Homo sapiens: one gene and its partner. The protein of the gene in region 1 interacts with the protein of each later gene in a pairwise test. Each region holds a gene or a part of one and is shown on either strand. Other genes may lie near its edges. The genes, in order: OTOP3 and ZFYVE27.

The links.
Region 2: the proteins of OTOP3 (region 1) and ZFYVE27 interact in binary tests that used the Homo sapiens proteins (3 or more experiments, as listed by UniProt).

What each region holds. Positions count from the first base shown.
Region 1 is NC_000017.11:74,931,284-74,938,898, forward strand, and holds the start of OTOP3 (proton channel OTOP3), read left to right. Parts: upstream 1-4,624; 5' UTR 4,625-4,638; coding exon 4,639-4,657; intron 4,658-7,615. Other genes in the region: proton channel OTOP2, read left to right, coding at 2,092-2,262. UniProt on the Homo sapiens protein: Proton-selective channel gated by extracellular protons.
Region 2 is NC_000010.11:97,754,011-97,761,272, reverse strand, and holds the end of ZFYVE27 (protrudin), read right to left. Parts: intron 6,547-7,262; coding exon of another isoform or gene 6,521-6,546; exon of another isoform or gene 4,009-6,520; coding exon 3,962-4,008; intron 3,632-3,961; coding exon 3,550-3,631; intron 3,406-3,549; coding exon of another isoform or gene 3,395-3,405; exon of another isoform or gene 3,092-3,394; intron 2,038-3,091; coding exon 1,973-2,037; 3' UTR 378-1,972; downstream 1-377. UniProt on the Homo sapiens protein: Key regulator of RAB11-dependent vesicular trafficking during neurite extension through polarized membrane transport. Promotes axonal elongation and contributes to the establishment of neuronal cell polarity.

The DNA of each region.
Region 1 (7,615 bases):
AGGAGCAGGTTCAGAGGGGGCCAGCTGTAGCTTTGGGGCAAATGGCATCTCAGGGCACACAGAGAAAATGAAATCCTAGCGTTCTGGCATCTAAGCAGCAGATGGAGCTGGAAGGGTCCCAGGGAAGGTTGACACAGGGGCTGGGCAGAGGTGAGAGGGAGCTGAGAGCTGATGTGGAAGGCGGGGTCCTCACCCCCCAGTGGGAGGTGTGACTGCTCCTGGGAACTTGTGATCTGCCTGCTTCTCAGAATAATTGGAACAGTGTCAGGAAGTAGCGGAGACCAGTGTTAAGTGTGAGCGGTCTGTTAGCAGAGTGAACTGGGAAGGAGGGCATCTACAACAGCCACCCCCTCCCTAGTGACTCAGCAAAGATTAAGAACAACAGACTTGGCCGGGTGCAGTGGCTCACGCCTGTAATCCCAGCACTTTGGGAGGCCGAGGCAGGCAGATCACAAGGTCAGGAGTTCGAGACCAGCCTGGCCAACAGGGTGAAACCCTGTCTCCACTAAAAATACAAAAATTAGCCAGGCGTGGTAGTGTGCGCACCCTATAATCTCAGCTACTTGGGAGGTTGAGGCAAGGGAATTGTTTGAACCCAGGAGGCGGAGGTTGCAGTGAGCTGAGATTGCACCATTGCACTCCAGCCTGTGCAACAGAGTGACACTCTGTCAAAAAAAAAAAAAAAAAAAAAGCAATAGACTTCACCCAATACAAATATATTCTCTGTATAGAAGTACCCCAGGGCAGAAACACTGGTAATGAAAGTGCATACCAATAGGAAAACACTCCTGGTGTTTCTAGTACAACCCAAGACAGAAATGGCCCAGTGGGGGCTTATTATTACCTCTGATATAGAAACATGTACCTATGTGGGTACATCTCAAAGAGAAAAAAACAATTCTAATGAAGTTTCACTCAATAGAAAAACAATCCTTCCAGCTAGAACCTCCAATAGAAAAATATCCCTAATATAGAAAATTACTTAATGTGGGTATATCCCAGGACAGAGCAAGAGCCCCAGAGTGAATTCTACCCCATGAAATCCTACCTGCATGAGGTACACCAGTGGCCCTAACTAAGAGTCATTCTTAGTGAGGTCCCACTGTGAAGGGCCATCCACCAGGTCATGGTCCCCATAGATGTGGGATGATGCCACGCAGGAGCCTTCCAACACAATCAATTTCACTTAAAAAAAATGTGGTCATCAATCTCTGACCCTACCAGCAGAATCATTAAGGTCCAGACCTCAGCATGTCTTGGAACGTCTTTGGTACCTGGCCCCCTGCCCTCTGGCCCCACCTCCACCTTCCACCCAGGCCTGGCTTATAGGCTAGGGGCCACCTTCTGGGAGGCTATTCTTGCTCCAGGCATCTGAGCCTAAATCACCTCCAGTAGCATCTTCTCCATCTCCTTCATTTTATAGGACAGAACAGGCTTAGAGGGGACTGCAATGTGCCCAAGGATGAAGTTAATCAGGGGTAGGGGTGGAGCTAGCCTAGAAACCTTTGTTCTTTGCTTCTTACCCACACCTGAATCTTCTGAGCTCCTAGCCAGAGAGGAAGCAGGATTCCAACTTCCACTTCCTCCCACTCCTGGAAAGGGAGAAGGGGATGAGGGGAGAGCTGGAGGGCAGAGCTCAAGGAGGGCTGGGGTGGGGTGGCCTTCTGTCTGAACCCCAAACCCCTGCCTTGAGCCTATCTGATTCTGCCACCCCCACCCCTGTGCACAAAACCCCCCAGGACAGAGCTGCTGATTTCACTGTTTGTACCTCTTCTTCTAGAGAAACCTCTTCTCCCCTCCCCAATCCCACATTGAGGCCCTGCTAAGATTTTGGGAGAGGTGATCACAGGTGTCCATGAGGTGGGCTAGCCTAGGGATGGCGAATTCAGTTGGGCTCACTTCCTGAGCCCCTTAGAGTGTGCTAGGTCCTGTCCAAAATGCTAGAGCTGCCCATTCACTGACACCCAGCCCTCCGTGTCCACCAAGCTAGAAGGATGGGCCGCCATCTAGCCACGGCCCAGCAAAACCCACAGAAATGACCCACAGGCATCCATCCAGGCCAGCTCCTGAAATGCTCCTCTCTCCACACAGCTGTGGATCATGCCTGCCTTCGGGGCCCGCCCTCATTTCAGCAACACAGTGGAGGTGGATTTCTACGGCTACTCCCTCTGGGCGGTCATCGTCAACATCTGCCTCCCTTTCGGCATCTTCTACCGCATGCACGCTGTGTCCAGCCTGCTGGAGGTCTACGTGCTGTCCTGAGGCCTCCAACAGAGGCATGGGGGGCAGGAAGAGGGGGCTCAGCTCATGTGCCCACTCAGACACCCTCTGGGAATGAATCCCAGCTGGTGCCATATGACAGCCCATTTCCTTCTGGTCCCAGAGTGGAATTTTCACAAAAGTTATTTTTCCAGGTTCAATTTTTAAATCACAGTCAGGACAGGCCCATCCACCCCAGTATGACCGTGGGGCATGAGGTGACTGGGGAAGGGAGACCTCTCCTGGCAGCATTTCTAGGACCCAACAAGATCTGGAGGTGCCGGCTCTGGTTCCATCTCTAATCCCCTGCTGTGGCCTGGCCAGTGTACTGCCCGGAGCTGGAAACCAATAAACCTGTGATTTGCCCCCATCCCCACTGTTTGTCTCTGTTGTCCCGTCTGAGGTGGTCACAGGAGAGGATCTTGGGAGTCAGAGCGGGAAGGGCCCCTGGAGATTTTCAGGTCTCAAGTTTTGCAGTGTGTGAGCAAAATCCAAATGACAGACTAGCTACAGGGTGGGTAACTGGAGTTCCCAAACTGCCATCTTCCTCTTCCCTTTATCTCCAGGTGGCATATACATATAATCTTTTTTTTTTTTTTTTTTTGAGAGAGTGTCTCACCTTTTTGCCCAGGCTGGAGTGCAGATAGATCACTGCAACCTTAACCTCCTGGACTCAAGAGACCCCCCCACTTCAGCCTCCTGAGTAGCTGGAACTACAGCTACTACTGCCACCACGCCTGGCTAAATTGTGTGTGTGTGTGTGTGTGTGTGTGTGTGTGTGGAGATGAGGGTCTCATTGTGTTGCCCAGTCTGGTCTTGAACTCCTGGGCTCAAGTGATCCTCCCCCCTCAGCCTCCCAAAGTGCTGGGATTACAGGCATGAGCCACAGCACTCAACCTAATCATTTTCTTTGTGTGTGTCCCATGACAGAAGAAAGTTTAGGAAGCAGTGACCTAGTCTAATGTCTGCATTTTACAAAGAAGGAAGCTGAGGCCCAGAGAGGTAAAGTGACTTGCCCAAGGTCACACACCTGCAAAAAATCCAGAGCCTTTCTGCTAAGAACAATAATTTTCAAACTTTGTTTTCAAGCAGAACATTTTTCCCTTCAAATAAAATATTACAGGAACACAAGTTTATAACATAGATATAGGCTGTGTGCAGTGCCTCACGCTTGTAATCCCAGCACTTTGGGAGGCCGAGGCAGGCAGATCACTTGAGGTCAGGAGTTCGAGACCAGCCTGGCCAACATGGCGAAACTCTGTTTCTACTAAAAAATACAAAAAGTAGCCGGGCATGGTGGCGTGCGCCTGTAATCCCAGCTACTCAGGAGGCTGAGGCAGGAGAATCACTTGAACCCAGGAGGCAAAGGTTGCAGTGAGCCGAGATCATGCCACTGCACTCCAGCCTGTCTAAAACAAAAACAAAAACAAACAAACAAAAAAGATATAAACAAGGCAGTTCTAATTTAAAAGGAGTTGGGAGTCTCAGATCCTCACCACTTGACTTCCCCCTGCCCCAGGAGGTCCCCGAGGAGTTTCCCCTAAGCCCTAGGGTTTCTACTCTACAAAGGGTATAGAGATGCTTAGGAGGGAAGACAGCAGAGAGATGGGAAGGAGGCTCCACAGTTAGAAGAGTGAAAGGTGGTGGTGAGCATGCAGAGGCAGAGGGAGGGGAAGGGCTGGGAGAGGGAGGGCTGGGCGGGACCCATGGAGCAGATGGCATTTGGGGGAGATCATGGGAACAGCAGCACTGGGAGCTCAGGGGACTTTGAGGAAAGTGTGCCTGGACCCTGTCAGCAGAAGGAGGTGAGTAGTTCTCAGAGGCCGCAGGTGGAGCTGAGGAGGCCTCCTCCCCTGTCAGAATGGGGCTGTGCTCCAACTCTCCCCACCAAGTTCAGGTTTGACTTAAGGGAAACACAGGGTCCTGCTAGGCGGCCTCCAGGCCTGGGGCTAGGTAGGGTACAGGAAAAAGCGACTCCAGGCCTGGAGGGAGGGCGTCCATTCCCAGCTTGATCACCAAAGGAAAACGAGGCCTGAATTCCGCAAGCTCTTTACTGCGGACCTAAGAACACTGCACCCCTCTCCACCCCATCCGAGGGCGGGCTGCGAGTTGGAGACCCTGCAGGCCCGCGCCTGCACAGCCCTCAGCCCCGCCCGCTTGTCCAGCTGCCTCGCAATTGGCTGCACCCTCTGGGTCCGAGCCCCCGGGAGGGTAATTAACGAGGGATTAATGAGATTTCCAAAGTCAACAGAAAAATCGATGGGCCGCGGAGCCCGAGCGGCGGCTGCGCAGTCCCGCTGGGGGAGGGCGTCGCGGGCATCGGTCTCACCTGGACGGACGATCCGCTCAGCGCCCGCAGTCGGTGGTTAGCCCACGGCGATGCCTCTCCCGGCCTCAGGTAAGCCCGGAGCGCCGGCGGAACTTTCCCAGCTTGCGCACCCCAGACACTGGCACATACTACCCACCCCCCCAAAAGGGGGGTTCACAAGTAGGGGCTGCAGGGATTGGAACGGGAAAGCGGGGTGACTGTGGAGAGGTGAACTCCCTTTAATCTGAGGCCGGCCCCTCCACCCGCCCCGCAACCCGCGCTCCGCGCCCCTACTCCTTTCCGTGGACCCGGGGAGCACAGAGGGCCTCAGGGCGCGACTCCTCCCGGCCGGGTCCACACAGCAGAAAGCGCGGAGGCCTGGGGTGTGAGGTTGGTTGGGGCTGTCTGGACGCCCGGTCTGGGGCACGCAGGAAGCGGCTGCCCCGGCCCCGCAGTCCCTAAAATGGCTCGGAAGGAAATCCCGAGGGCGCCCGCACTCAGCAGCCTCCTCGGAGCCGGCCCTGCGCTGCTGGGCCGGGCGCCGGGCCCGACGGCTCCGCGGCTTTCATCGCCAATCCAGCCGAGACCCACAAACCAGTCCAGTGTCCCGGCCCTCCCTTGGACTGGCGTCGCGCCCAGGGGCGTGCCAGGGGGCGGCAGAGTACTGCTTGTCAGTTCCAGGTGCCCTTGCCCCAGCCTTCTGCCCGAGACCCCTAAATGCCCACTCCTGCCCCCTGCCCAGCCCGGGACCAAATTCGCTCCTTTGAAGGCTCACGCCAGCGGCCTTTGGAGGGCTGGACTTCAGGGTGGGAGACGGGGGATACTGTCAGGGCAAAGACCCCAGAGGAAGGGAACCTGGAACCTTGTCCCCCAGTGTCCCCTCCAGGCCTCCAGTCTGAATAAAATTCACCCTTGAAATTTCACCAGTAATCCCGACCCTTCCCAGCTCTCCAGGACCTCAAAAGAACTGGAAGGAAATGCAGAGATAGCCAACACTGAGTTTTCCAGGTGCCAGGCATTGCCGGCATTACTCTCTGCCCGTGCTTCGTGCATGTATTAAATCATGTCATTCTGACAAAGCCCCTATTCGGCATTCATCACCCCCCCACCCTTTTTTTTTTTTTTTTTTTGAGACAGGGTCTAACTCTGTCCCTCAGGCTGGAGTTCACTGTGGCGATCACAGCTCACTGCAGCCTCAGCCTCCCAGGCTGAAGCAATCCTCCCACATCAGCCTCCCGAGTAGCTGGGACTACAGGTGCATGCCACTACACCTGGCTAATTGTTTGGTATTTTTTGTAGAGACAGGGTTTTGCCATGTTCCCCAGGCTGGTCTCCAACTCCTGGGCTCAAGGGATCCGCTCACCTCAGCCTCCCAAAGTGCTGGAATTACAGGCGTGAGCCACTGCAGCCAGCCTCGTTCCGGAAGTCTTTATTGAGCATCTACTATGCACCAGCTACTATTCCATAGTTGTATATCAGTTTTGCAGATGACAACACTCAGGCACAGAGTCTAAGTAGCTCTCTGTAGTAGTCTCAGTAGTCTAAGATGACAGAGGTAATAAGTGCTGGAATCTGAGCACTTGATCATTAATCTACCCTGCTTGGGGGCTGGAGGAGAGGGTGCAGGTTTTGGGGAAGGTGAAGTAGAGCAGTTACAGTTGGGATATATGGAGCAGGGAGACATCCCGGTGAGCCCCAGCCTTGCTCAATTTGGGTGGGGGAGCTTAGGAGGGAAAGATAAAGATCATCGGGAGTCTCCTCCCCAGCCAGCCCGGAAAGAGTTTAATGGGAAGGGTCTCTGTCCACAGCTCTGGTGCTGAAAATTTCCCAAAAGATGCCAGAGTCAGTGGGCAATCACTGGGTGAATGTCACATCTGCACTAGGTTTGGGGGGTCCAAGTTAAGCAGGACCCGGTCTCTGTCCTGGAGGAGTTTCAGGACTTAATGGGAGCCAGCCACACCCACAGCACACCAAACAGGGCACACCTCTCAATAGAGGGGAGTGGCCCCAGCAAAGTAGCACCAGAAGGCTTAGGCAGAGAGGAAGGCTTTCCAGGTGGGTGGGGAGGATGGGCGAGTGGTGGGGGAGGCAGAAAGAAGAGCAGTGTCCAGGAGGGATGGCAGGAGGCAGGAGACCATGGGAGAAACGCAGAACTTTCTACCTGGGCCTGGGTTGGTGTGGGAGGCAGGTGCCTTGAGTACGGCAGGGGTGGTGGGACAGGGAGGAGACAGAACTTAGGCAAGGATGACAGAGTGGAGTGGGAAAGGGGAGAAAATCATTTATAGAATCTTGAAAAGAGGCTTAAGTTTTAGTGCTCCATCTGCCCCAGAAGAGAACAGCAGAAGGTATAAATATGGAGCAGGTGGAGAATGGGAGAATATGACAAGGGGAGAATGGGAGCCCGGAGAGGTTGCATTTTCAAGCCAGATATGGTGAGAGTCTTCTGGTGTTGCATAGAGGGCACGTCTGAAGCTCCTGAAGCCTGGGGTCTCAAGGGAGAGACAGAGCAAAGCACAGCTAATGGAAGCAGAGGACGATGGGTGGTCAGCGTGGGGTGAGGTGGGAATGCTGACGAGGGAAGGCCGCAGAGAGGAGGCAGGGTCTCTGCCGAGTCCTGAAGGACAAGCTAGAGTTACCCAAGGGGCAAAAGGGGTAGGCATTAAAGGCAAAGAATAGGGTGTGGGCAAAGACTGGGGGCGTTCCAGGAAGTGCAGCAAGATGGTATAGCCCAAGGAGAGGGGAGTAGGGTCAAAGACAATGCTAGAGGGGTAAGTTGAAGCCAGACCAGGAAGCAGCAGCAGCTACTCTGCCTTGGGCAGAGAACCTGGAACCTTGTCCAGGCCCATACTAATCATACACCTCTCATTTTGAGAGGCCATGCAGGCTGTGTCAGTAATTTGGACTTTATACTGAGGGCAATTAGTTGCCTTTGCAGGACTTTAAGTAGGGGAGAGGCACTCTGGGCAAGAAGACCAGTCCAAGAGAGCAAGGAAGGGGGCCCAGACTAGGTAGTGGTTGAGGTCAAGAAAAATCAGGGCCAGGCATGGT
Region 2 (7,262 bases), on another chromosome or scaffold:
GCTTTCTCAGAGGGATTAGTTAAAATCTTTCCGTTGTAAAGCCTGCATTGTTTGGGGTTTACCAAGTTCTAGTCCCAACCCCAACCCCCAGTGCTGGGCCCTCACAATTGGGTCACAAGACTGGGCCTCAAGTCAATCCGACAAGCATTTGCTGAGCCTCTCCTGCGTGCAAGGCACAGCTTTCCTCCTCTTGGCCCCCAGCTCATACCCAGACCAGGCTGCAGCCCCCACGCCCCTGCCACCATGGTGCCCCAAAGGCCCGCCCCTCAGCCTGGTCCTGCAGGAATTGCCCAGGCCTGCAAAACTCCAGCAGTGCCAGAGAGATCTGGTCTTCCAGCCTCAGGGAAAATGCCAACACAAAGACATGACAAAAACAAGAAGCTTGAGGCCTTTTTATTGACAATTCTCCATAGACACAGAGATCCTTTTAGTTCCTCTCCAGTGTAAAGAAAGCACGGGGTACTGAACTCTCCTCTCTTAAAAGGACACAGAGGCGATACGATACCAAAGCCTGTCTGGCTCCCCAGGGCTGTGGCACCTCCACTGGCCTGGGTAAGCCCCTGGCTGCACAGCCCCAGCTAAGCTGCTTGGCTCGGCAAGAAAGCGGGCCTAGGATGGGTCCCTTGCCTCCCCAGCCTGCCTCTCTGGACCCCTGCTCCTCGAGTGTAGAAACCTCTCAGCCCCCTCATGGGTCCTGGGTCCCAGGCAGCCCATGACTCCAGGGAAGAGTCCTAGGTAGAAGACCCCCACCCCCAATTCCTCCTCATCCCATTACTTGTGCCACATGTTCCCAGGAACCATGCAATAAATAAATAAATACTTGAGAAAGGCAGGGCAGCTCCAGGGAAGGGAAGGGATGCCTGAGCCAGCTCATGGCTAAGGGAGAGATACTGAGCCCGTAAGAGTCCAGTAGTGAACATGAAACTGTTGGAAAGAAATGGAGACCCCCAGGGGGCCTTATCCCATAACTGAGACTGTCCTCCAGGGAATAGCCCTGGAATCCAGGACCCAGCCCAGCGAGATCCTACACTACCCAGGCCCCCAGGGGTCAAGGGCTTCAGGACCTCTGCTCCACTCACCTGGCCTCCCACTCCATTGGACAAGAGGCAGGGAAAGGAAACTGGAGTGCTGGGCCAGTGGAGGACTGCCCTAGACTCTGGACAGAGGGTGCAGAAGTTGTGATCCAAGTGCCCTGCAGCTGCTCCAGCGGAGCTGGGGACACTGGGGCATTGTGTGGGCTGAGAGTCTGTGAATTGAGGTGTCTTCGAGGGGAGGCCGAGGTCTGTCCAGCTATTGGGGCTTCCCCAAGCTTTCCTCCACTTAACGCTGAAGGACTCAGCCAAACCCTCCTATACACATTCTCCTCTCAGGGAATCTGGGAACTTCAACCCTGTTTCTAGAAGCACCCATGGTCTTGTTAGGCCTGGCCACACCCTCTGATGGGGAAATGATGAGATCCTGGTGCCTGGAGGGACATTCAATCAGCAGAGATGGGGTGTGGCACTCCCAAGCCCTTCTGCAGGCTCTCTGAGGCTGAGGGCCTGGCCCAGTACCCTGCAGGAGAAAAACCTCTTTTCCCAACCTCAGGTCTGGAATTCCCAGGCACAGCCACACTGACCCTGATCTTCAGACCCCAGTCAGGCCTGGCCTAGTTCGCTGCTGCCCTCTGGTGGCTACTGCCTGCCCAGCCCTAAGTCCACTCGCTCAGTCCCAGGCAGAGCAGGACAAACATGCCAGGCCCTCCAGGGGCTCTTCTCCCTCAAGGGATTGAGAGCAGCCATTGCCAGCCACTCTCATGGATGGAGAACAGCTCCAGAATCCAGCTGGAGAGAGTGAGGAAGGAAGGGGAAGCCTACCTAGCATTCAGGCCACATTTGCCCAGCACACACCACAGTGGGCCAGGGGTGGGGAGAGTGGGGGGTCTACTGCTGGTCCCAAGGACGGGTGCCTGGTTGGACCCTGGCCTCTCTTCTCACTTGCTCAAGGTCTGGTTACACGAGGCACACACAAACACAGTCTCCCTCTGGGCTTCAGGGGCTGAAAAGGAGGAAGAACTTGGTGAGACATTTCCTTGCGCCCTTTGGTTCATGGCCCCAACTACTAGAAGCACCCTCCCAAATGCCCCACACAGACCCCCCACCCAGCCCACACCCTCCCTGCCCAGCTTGCTAGCCTGCCCGCAGAGATTCTTCTTTCCATGGGAACTGGGGATCCTGGGGGTGATGATGCCAACAGCAGGCCACTCCTGTGCTATGAATTAGACATTATTGTGGCACCAACAGAACACCTTCAAAAATTTTTAAATAAAATATTAAATACAAAAATTAGCCAGGCATGGTGATGCACGCCTGTAATCCCAGCTACTCAGGAGGCTGAAGCACAAGAATTGTTTGAACCCAAGAGGCGGAGGTTGCAGTGAGCCGAGATGGCGCCACTGCACTCCAGGCTGGGCGACAGAGCGAGACTCTGTCTCAAAAAAACAGAATAAGTAAAATATCACAGTGAAATTTCCCAAAATGTTTTAACAGTGGTTACCTCTGGGTGGTAAAATTACAGGGTTATTTTTCTCTTCCTTCGTCCTCTGTATAATAATTTCCAAATTTTCTAGTTAGTAAGCATATGTTACTTGCATCGGAAGAAAAAAGAACTTGGGCTGGGGGCGGTGGCTCACGCCTGTAATCCCAGCACTTTGGGAGGCCGAGGCGGGCAGATCACCTGAGGTCAGGAGTTCAAAACCAGCCTGACCAACATGGAGAAACCCCGTCTCTACTAAAATACAAAATTAGCCGGGTGTGGTGGCGCATGCCTGTAATCCCAGCTACTCGGGAGGCTGAGGCAGGAGAATTGCTTGAACCCAGGAGGCAGAGGTTGTGGTGAGCCAAGGCCGTACCACTGCACTCCAGCCTGGGCAACAAGAGTGAAACTCCGTCTCAAAAAAAAAAAAAAAAAAACTTGGTTTAACATTATACTACAAAACGGTACATGAAATGTGACCACATTTTTCAGGAATATGCATGTGCTTTTATTCTACATGCAAGCTAATGAGCAGCAGGGTCCATGCCCGATTGTTCTCTCAGGAAGAAATCAGGAATTTTTTTTCCTTTTGCTTATCTGTGTTTTTTATTTACAATATGTATAGGAAATATTTTATATTTTATAAAAGGAAAAAAAGGAATTTTTAGTTTTGTTCAAAGTGCCAAGGAAATAAGAAAAAGATTAAAATTGCGGCTGGTGATTGACTCCAGGAAGGCAGGAGCAGTGCTGGGAGCTGCGGGGGTGTTGCCAGGGCTCTTGTTTTTCAACTTTAGTGAAGCAGCCACAGGTATTCATCTTGTTATTACCCTTCACAATTCACAGGTACATCATATCTATTCTTCGGCATGTACCAAATGTTTCAGGATTTTGCTAAAGGGGATGGAGGAAACGTTCCCGTAGGCCTGACTACAATCCCAAGTTCCCTTGACCTCTGACACCCTTGCCTCTGTGCCACAGCGTGACATCCCCTGGGCGGGATACCAACCAAGCCCTCCCACCACCTGCACCACTCACCTGTGGCCCCCATGGAGGACTTGGGCACCTTGAAGGAGCAGCATCGAGAGCAGAAGCTGTTTCCACAATTACTGCAGCTCCGCTGCAGACAAGAGCCAAGGTCAGATGTGTCCCTCACCCTCAGGTACCTGGAGTTCTCAGCACCTCCCTCCTTTCCACCAGCTGATCCCACCCAAGGAAACTGGGCCTGGGGGGTGCCCAAGTGGAGCAGGAAAGAGAGCAAATGGAATACCCCCTGGGGAGGCTGGTAAAAGGTGGCACAGGCGCAGGGGAGGGCACACTCACTCCAGAAAGCCACTGCCAGGCCCAATGTGACCCGAGCCAGACTTTCTCAATGACTCCCCTCAACTCCTCCCCACCCGACAGTCCCAAGGACACTGTCCCCAACAAATGCACCCTCACAGACACTCACCCTCTTCTTCAGCACTGAGAAGGTGGCCGAGCAGCCCGTGCAGTTCCCTGAGAAACAGAGGCAGCAGCTCAACCCCCGCCCATCCCAGGACTCTCACGCTCACCTGCTCCTGGCGCTTCTAAATGGGACACTCAGGACACCAGCCCAGCCTCCTTGGCTGGACACAGTGAGCCAGGGAGCAAGGCCAGATTCAGAGACAGAAAGAAGGACTCAAACTAAGAAGACTGATAGCCCCTGAGGACTGATGTCTCCAGCCATACATAGCTACCAGTCCCTGAACCCTTCCAGAGCTGAGTGGCCCTACCTACAGGTTCAACAGAAATCAAAGAGCACCCAGCAGAATCCACTCCAAGAAAGCCAGCTAAGCTGGCAGGGACCTGACCACAGGCATCCCCAAATGACACCTGCCTAACATGACCCTTTCCGGAGCAATGCCTTACAAATACTCCACCCACAGGCTAAAGACAGAAACTCCTAAAAACCTAAACTCCTGCTTTCTGTCCCCTGAAGACTGCAGGAGAGAAACTCAGAGCCAGGCACATTCCAAGAAGACATGAAGGGTAGAATGCTCAACTGTAAAGACACGAAGGGTAGAATGCTCAATTGTGGTGGGCAGTGAGTGGCATGGGGGGACGCAGAGCAGGGAGAGGTCCTGCCTAAACCACCAGAGATGCCAAGATGGCCAAGTGCCCGGCAACAGTGGAGGGGCAACGGCAGCTTAGAAAATGGCTAGAAGACAACAAGGGGGTGTAAGGGGAGAGGAGAGACAGAGAATGAGGTTTCTGGGATGTGGGGCCCATAGGCCTGCTATGACCCAGCCGGACCACCTGTCTGGGCAAGTACAGAGCACCAGGCCTCACTTTCACAGAAAGGCCCCAAAGCTTTATTGACGGCTACATGTGGTCCCTTCCTCTGTCCAGCCAAAATCACCTGAAGTTCTTGCTAAAGGAGACTCCCTAGGTTCAGGGAAAGGAAGACCTCTGCTAGAGCCAGGGGAAATCTGAGGCCAAGGTGCTTCAGGTAAATGCCCACCCTGTCAGTCAGCCAGGGAAAGAGAAGAACAAGCCTACTGCTGGTGCCAAACCAGGAAACTGGCTGCTCCAAGATTCTGTCCCTACACCAAGAATTTGGGGAAGGCAGCCTGCCCCAGCCTCTCCTTAGCAAGGGACACAAGGGGAATGGGACAGGCAAAAGGAGCTACTCAAAGACTGACACTGACCTGAGCCCAAGGTCTCCTCTAAACTGAATGGAATGTCAGGGCCAAGCACCCCAGGGCAGCCAAGTGGGCTGGGGAGACAGCTGTGAACCCACTCACAGACCGGAGCCAGGGAGGGCTCTGGGAGCTGAGAGCAGCTCAGCCAGGTGACGTTCCCTTCCAACACCTACCAACTCTTTCTGCCCCTTCTCAGCAACAGCCTGGACTCACCCATCCTCACTCACCACGTGACGATGCCACCGAGGCCATGACAGCAGGGGCACTAAGGCCCAGTGGGGCCTGCCAGGGCAACAGTCATGGAGCCTCCAGGACAAAGGGGGGCCCTCCCCACCAAGACCTCTCCCATACGGAGGCCACAGAGAAGCTCCTTTGCAGTCTGCCCTCATTCTCCCCATGCACCCCCTCATCCACTGGCAGGGGTAAATAGAATAGCCCCCACCACAGTCCCCTAACATTCACATGTGGAATCCTAACACCCAAAGCAGGGCCCCTGGGAGGTGACCGGGTCATGAGGGTGGAGCCCTCGTGAATGGGATTAGTGCCCTTATAAAAGAGGCCCCAGAGAACTGCCGTGCCCCTCCCACCTTCTCATGAGGACACAGTGAGAAGGTGCTGTCTATGACGACGGAAATGGACCTCACCAGAACCTGATCCTGCTGACACCCTGATCTTGGACTTCCAGCCTCCAGAACTGTGATGAGAGATTTCCATTATTTAAAAGCCCCCCAGCTTAGTGTATTTCGTTATAGTCGCTGAAATGGAGAAAGCCCCCAAAGCAGCTCCCCTCGCCCTGCTCTCAGGACCCAGGTTCAGGAGCAGAGGCCGCAGGAGCAGAGCTGCTACACCTGCCCTCATGGCAAAGAGCTTGGGAACATCTCAGAAAAGGGAAAGTAGCAAGTGGTCTTGAAGGATGAGGAACTAAGAGGAGTTTAGGAAAAGAAGCACTTTCTGCCCTTGCCATCCTTGAGGGAGGCTGAAAAGGCCTCTGCCCATGCTGGTAGAGATTATCCAAACCAAAAATCAAATACAAAAGCGGGACAGGCATAAAACAAGGGACTTCACACGCAAGGGCAAAGGGAAAACAGAGAGGGAGGATGAAGAGGTAGAAAGAAGACAAGAGCCGAATCAGACAACCTGAATTTGAGTCACAGCTCCACCATTTCCAGGCCAAAGTCTCTGGGCAAAGCACTCTTTTTACCTCAGGTTATTCATCTGTAAAATGGGAACAGCTAAGTACCTTTACTTAGAAGTTGTAGAAATAGACAAATTATTTGCTGGACCAGAGTAATACTTCTTGTGTGTAGTGTTACCGGGCACTGCTGGAATCTGGCTGCTCTGAACCCTTAAGAACTGCCTGCTCCTGTCACACCTACGGTAAGGATGAAATGAGATCACACATGTGCAAGTATGGAGGGTAAACAGATCACTGAACATACAGAATGCCCTGCAGAAGTCAGCAGGCAGCATAAATAAAACAAAGGGGCCGGGCGTGGTGGCTCACACTTGTAATCCTAACACTTTGGAAGACCAAGGTACAAGAATCACTTAAACCCAAGAGTTCAAGACCAGCCTGAGGAACAAAGTAAGACCCTGTCTCTACAAAAAAAATTCAAAAATTAGCCAGGCATGGTGCTACATGCCTGTAGTCCCAGCTACTCGGGAGGCTGAGCTGTGAGGATCACTTGAGCCCAGGAAGTCGAGGATGCAGTGAGCTGTGATCATGCCACTGCACTCCAGCCTGGGAGACACAGTGAGACCTTGTCTCAAAAAAAAAAAAAAAAAGGGATCTTGAATAACTGGGGGACATTCACACAGCAGAAAGAAAGAGCCTGTCCAGGACATCTAATCCTGAGAAAACAACTGCCCTGGCTGCTGCAGGGGTAGGAAGGCAGGACCCTGGGGGCCCTGAGTCAAATTCCTCAAGATAAACTCCATTGTCTTCTTCCAGGGCACAGACCCTAGAACTCACTCAACACCAGAACACACAGTACTGCCCCCTTACCCTGCTCCCATCTGACAGCAGGCAGGAGGGCCCTTCCTCAGGAGCACAGCAGCTCCCAGGTCAACCTAGCTACTCTAGGTTTC